Regions from separate parts of the Homo sapiens genome. Here region 2 is linked to region 1. Evidence: fine-mapped expression QTL. Tissue or cell type: whole blood. Region 1 holds a variant in brackets; the other region holds the start of a gene. All regions are shown on one strand. Distances are between the middles of the regions.

What was found. PIP is the estimated chance that this variant, and not a neighbour inherited with it, causes the effect.
Region 2: it holds the start of LY9, and the variant in region 1 is fine-mapped to the expression of LY9 in whole blood (TOPMed, PIP above 0.99).

What each region holds. Positions count from the first base shown.
Region 1 is chr1:160,816,864-160,819,627 of GRCh38, forward strand. LY9 (lymphocyte antigen 9) reads left to right here. Exons shown (of 10, transcript NM_002348.4): 6 at 1,355-1,456; 7 at 2,458-2,511. Among named protein-coding and RNA genes, the nearest start is that of LY9, 22 kb to the left of the region's middle. The variant C/T (reference allele first, on the strand shown) is at 1,444.
Region 2 is chr1:160,794,643-160,797,274 of GRCh38, forward strand. It overlaps LY9 (lymphocyte antigen 9), which reads left to right and starts at 1,532. Exons shown (of 10, transcript NM_002348.4): 1 at 1,532-1,669. The coding sequence starts at 1,546.

The DNA of each region.
Region 1 (2,764 bases):
GTTTCTCTCCATCTCTATTTACTCAGGTCACAGGACCTTGGGGCCTCCAAGAGTTTGCATCCTGACTGATTCTTTATGAAGTGCAGTAAGAGGCTGTGGGTGAGAGCCCTTTAGAGTGGCATGCTTCCACAGATATATGAGAGTCACGCATGTGATTTTAATGTTCTAATAGCCACGTTAGAAAAAGCAAGAAGAAATAAAGTTATTTTAATAATATGTTTTATTTAACTGAATATATCCAAAATATCATTATTCAACGTGTATTCAATACAAAAAAATTCATTAGACACTACATTTTATTTTGTACTAAGTCTTTGAGAGCCAGTATGTATTTTACACTTAGAGCACGTCTCGATTCCGATGCTAAATTTTCACTGAAAGTGTTTAATCTATATTCAGACTTCGTAAAATTTACAGTTGAAAAAATAGATTTATGCACCCAAGTTATTCCAAGCATATTTATCAGTTTTTCAAGAAGGAATTGAGTAGCCATTTTTAAATTTAAACTAAAACTAAATAAAAGAAGCAATTTGGTGTCTCAGTAATACTAGCCACACTTCAAGGGCTTATGCATAGCTTGTGGCTACCATATTGAACAGCACAGAGTTACAGGCTTGTGGAGAAAAGCCAATAGGAAGCTGATATGGAAAGGGATGTGGACCACACAGGAACAAAGGCTGCGTGAGTGGGAGCTAGAAAAGAAGCCCCAGTGGCCCTTAATAAATGCTAAGTACTATTCTAGGCCTTCAGGCATTTTTGCACAATCTTCGCAACAATCCTACAGAGTAGATATTCTCGTTTTTCCCCTTTATATGGATAAAGAAACTGAGGCTCAGAAAAGATAAGGGACTTATCCAAGGTCACACCATAAAAGCTGGTTTCGAACCCTGAGCTCTATCTTCTGCTCTTCCGTAGAAGGAAGCAGAAAAAAGGTACGGTCTACCCAGGATCTGACAATGTTGGGTCAGATTGTGTCTGGCAGACAGATCTAGAGTCCAGCTTAACAGGAATCTGGAACTCCCCTCATATCATTTACAGCGGGGCAGTGTAATGTGGCGATTAAGGGCGCTGTAGGATCTGCACTCGAACCTCAGGTCAGACACTTGAAACACTGTGACACTGGGCAAGCCGTAAACCTCTCTACCCAGGGACTGTCTGCCTCAGGTACTGCTATAACCTCTTGCCTAGAGTAATGCTTGCTCGAAAAATGGTTGTAGAATGAATGAAAAGAAAGACTTTCCACAACGTCATGGATTTTAAGGGGCAGGTAGGATGGCCATCATGTTCTGTGCATTGTTTGCTCCAGTGTGTCTTGTCATTATTTGAATTAACATCACTCATTTCCTCCTCAAAGGACCTGAGAGAAACACAAAGCTTTGGATTGGGTTGTTCCTGATGGTTTGCCTTCTGTGCGTTGGGATCTTCAGCTGGTGCATTTGGAAG[C/T]GAAAAGGACGGTGTGAGTTTCCGAGATCAATGTTGTCCGCCAGTGCTAGGCCATTTCCCTGGGACTTGTGGAGGCTTCTCTGCCCTCACACAATCCCGTGCTACCCCTCCCTGCCAGCATCTTATTTCTTCTCAGAGCAATGGGGGAGGGGTGTCAGTTGGGACTCTTTACTCACAAATAATAGAAGCCCAGTTCAAACTGGCTTAGACAGAAAAAAAAAGGCATGTGGGAGCAGGGAGAGTGATTTATTATTTTTTCACTTAAATAATCAATCTGTGGGGAAGGCAGGGATAGAGCTGGCATAATGGAGAAATGTCACCAGAGGCTCAAAAGTCATCAGAGCTCTCCACCTTTCATCTCTACTGTGTATTTTGAGTCAGCTTAACTCTTCCTACTGCAGCCCGCTGAGGGAAGGGGTGGGAGCGAGGGGAGGAGTGTACCACAACACAACAGCTGGCAGCTCCAGACCCACACATACTAACAGCTCCGACACCAGACAGGGAAGAAAATGTGCTTCCCTCTAACTCCAATTTAAAGAATGTCAGAAATAGCTCTGATTGGCCCAAGTTAAGGTCATGTGGCTGCTGCTTGGACCAATTTCTATAGCCAAGAAGATACACTATTATGATTGGCAGCTCCTCTAGAATCCCAGTATTGGAGTGGAAATGAAGTAGTAGCCAAAAAGAGCAGAATGGGTAGAACACATGGGGTCCCTGGAAGAATTACTGAATTGCAGGCAAACTACTCTGATCAGTGGCTATGGCAGAGGAGCTCTCTCTTCTGGAGGGATGGCAGGAAGCTCCAGAGCCTCCACCTCTGCAGAAAGTAGCCCTAGACTCTGGCCACCCCTTCACATAGGCCTGGCTTCTCATCAGGGTTCATCCTCCTTCCTGAAGCCTTTTCCCTGTCTATGTCCCAGAAGTCTCTCCCCTTCTCATTTGACTCTCACAGAATAAAAGACACCTCTCACCTCACAGCCCTCTTGATAAACCTTCTCTAACTTTGTTTCTCAGGTTCAGTCCCAGCCTTCTGTTCCAGCCAAGCTGAGGCCCCAGCGGATACACCAGGTAACATCACCCATGACACAGGCTATGGGGTATCTGGTCCAAATGGAAGTTCTAAAGTCTTGCTGCTCAAAGTGTGGTCTGCTGGCCAGCAGTGTGGGCATCACCCAGGAAACTTGTTAGAAATGCAAAATCTGACCAGGTGCCGTGGCTCACACCTGTAATCCCAGCACTTCGGGAGGCTGAGGCAGGTAGATCACTTGAGGCCAGGAGTTCAAGACCAGCCTGGCCAACAAAGTGAAACCCTGTCTCTACT
Region 2 (2,632 bases), 22 kb before region 1:
TATCTTAATGGTTTCTCTCTCTCTCTCCCTTCTTCCTTTGAACCCAGACTTCCTGGGTTCAAGTCCTTACTAACTATAAAACTTATAGTAAGCTATTTAACCCCTCTCCACCTCAGTTTTCTCATTTATAGAATGGGGATGATAAAAGATATCTCATAAAACTATTGTAAGATCAAATGAGTGAATATGTTAAAGTGTCAGAAGATGGACTAGCACTCTGTAAGCTTTCATCGAATATTAGCTAAAACTACACATTCTGCCAGCCTCAAGTTTTCCTGCCAAGTCCCCTTAATGTTACAGCCTAAGTAAACAAATGACCTGAAGCCCGAAACACAAACCATAGCATGGCCAGCTATTACGCTACTGACAAGAAGAAGGAGGAGAAAAAGACAGTTTCCCAAGTCAGGATATAGGGAATCATGCCATTCTCCAGCCTACCTTTTCAACTCAGTCACCTCTACGCTGTCACATACGATGTCCACCCCCATTGCAGTCTCCCTGATGCCTTTGTCCATATTAAAAGTCCTTCATTGCATGTGACAGAAAGCTAGCACAAACTGCCTTGAGCAAAATAGAAAATGTATTGGGTCACTGTATTAGTTATCTGTTGCTGTGTAACAAATTGCCCCAAACTTCACAGCTAAAAACAATAAGCATTTTTGATGAAAAATAAAAAATTGAAAAAAAATTTAAAAACCAAACATTTATTATCTCACAGTTTCTCTTGATAAGGAATCTGGGCATGGCTTAGCTGGGTGCCTCTGGCTTAAGGTACTCACACAACTAACATCACGGTGTCAGCCAGGGCTGCAGTCATTTCAAGGACCTCCTGGGGAGGATCCACTTCCAGTCTCACTCATGTGATTCTTGGCTAGCCTCAGTCCTCATGGACAGTTGGCCAGAGGAATCAGCTCCTCGCCGATTGTTGGCTGGGGGCCTCCCTCTGTTCTTTGTTTTGGAACCCTCTCCCTAAAGTATCTCACAAAACAATACCTGGCTCCCCTCAGTGTAAGGTAGGGAGACAGAGATAGTGGGAAAGACAGAGAGGGAGAGAGGGCAAGAGAAAGAGAGAGCGCATATGCACACACATGCTAACCCAAGATGGAAGTCACAGCTTTTTTGTAACCTAATCTCAGAAGTGACCCATCCCACATCTCTGCCACATTCTATTCACTTGAAGCAAGTCACTAAATCCAGGCCACACTAAAGAAGAGGTGATTACACAGAGGCATGAATGCCAGGAGGTACAGATCTTTAGCAGTCACCTTTAGGAGCCAAATTTAGAACCCAAGTCCCTTGATGTCAAAGCAAGTGATGCTCCACATCAGTCACAAATGAGGCCCTGAATAGACTTGGGACCTCTACCTGCCTGCGCAGATGGGAGGAGTCTGTGGTGTTTTGTATAAACAACCCTCCCTCTGAGACACACACACATACACATACACATGCACACACACACTCATATACACATGCAGAAGCTGTGACACGTGCGGAAGCTGTGGTAAGTGCATCCTCCTTCAGTCTCAGTTCTGAAAATAGATCATCATGGTGGCACCAAAGAGTCACACAGATGACTGGGCTCCTGGGCCTTTCTCCAGTAAGCCACAGAGGAGTCAGCTGCAAATATTCTCTTCTGTTCTACAGACCTCTCTCCTCTTCCTGCTCATGGGTAAGTCCACTTTATGGCCACCACTTCTTGCTACTGCGGTTCTTCTGAGGCCAGTTGCATTCCCTGCCTGGGAGATTCTTTTTTTTGTTTTTTGTTTTTTTTAACGGAGTCTCACTCTGTTGCCAGGCTGGAGTGAAGTGGCGCAATCTCGGCTCACTGCAACCTCCACCTCCTGGGTTCAAGCGATTCTCCTACCTCAGCCTCTTGAGTAGCTGGGATTACAGGTGCATGCCAACACACCCAGCTAATCTTTGTATTTTTAGTAGGGGCAGGGTTTCACTATGTTGGCCACGGTGGTCTCGATCTCTTGACCTCGTGATCTGCCCAGCTCAGCCACCTGAAGTGCTGGGATTACAGGCGTGAGCCCAGTTCTTGTTGGTAAAATCGGGAAACTCATCTCCTTGCCAGAAATTACTTTGCATGTGTGCATATTCGTGCACTATGAAGGGGGTAACATTCTAGCCCCGGTCTCAAATAGCTCTGGGCTCAAACTACATTTCTCTTGCCCTCACATTTTCCTAAGAAATGCCAAGTATATAATGAGTTTGTTCCCTGTATGGTGTGGATAAAACCCACAGAGGGATCCAGGAAAATCCCCTGATGAGAAGCCACCTAGCAATTTCCTAGGGATGGAGAGAACTTCTGGAGCTTCTTTCTATGTATCCTGCCTTGGTTATCATATATGCTGGCTTTATTACTGAGGTTTCACTGGGGACCTGGACGCGGTTAGGTGACCATGGGCAAGGTGGCGTTTATCTGGATATCCTTTTCTCCTCAACCTTATTCCTCCCTATCAAGGCCCAACTCCTGGGAAACATCTCTCCGCTGCATGGCCCGGAACCCCACTGTCCAGCAGATAGAGCCAATCCAGTACCCCAGAGAGGATCTCAGCCACCTGGGACTGTGGCAGCTACTGTCCTTCTGTGCTCCCGCTTTCTCCAGGGCTTCAGGGATGATGGTGCA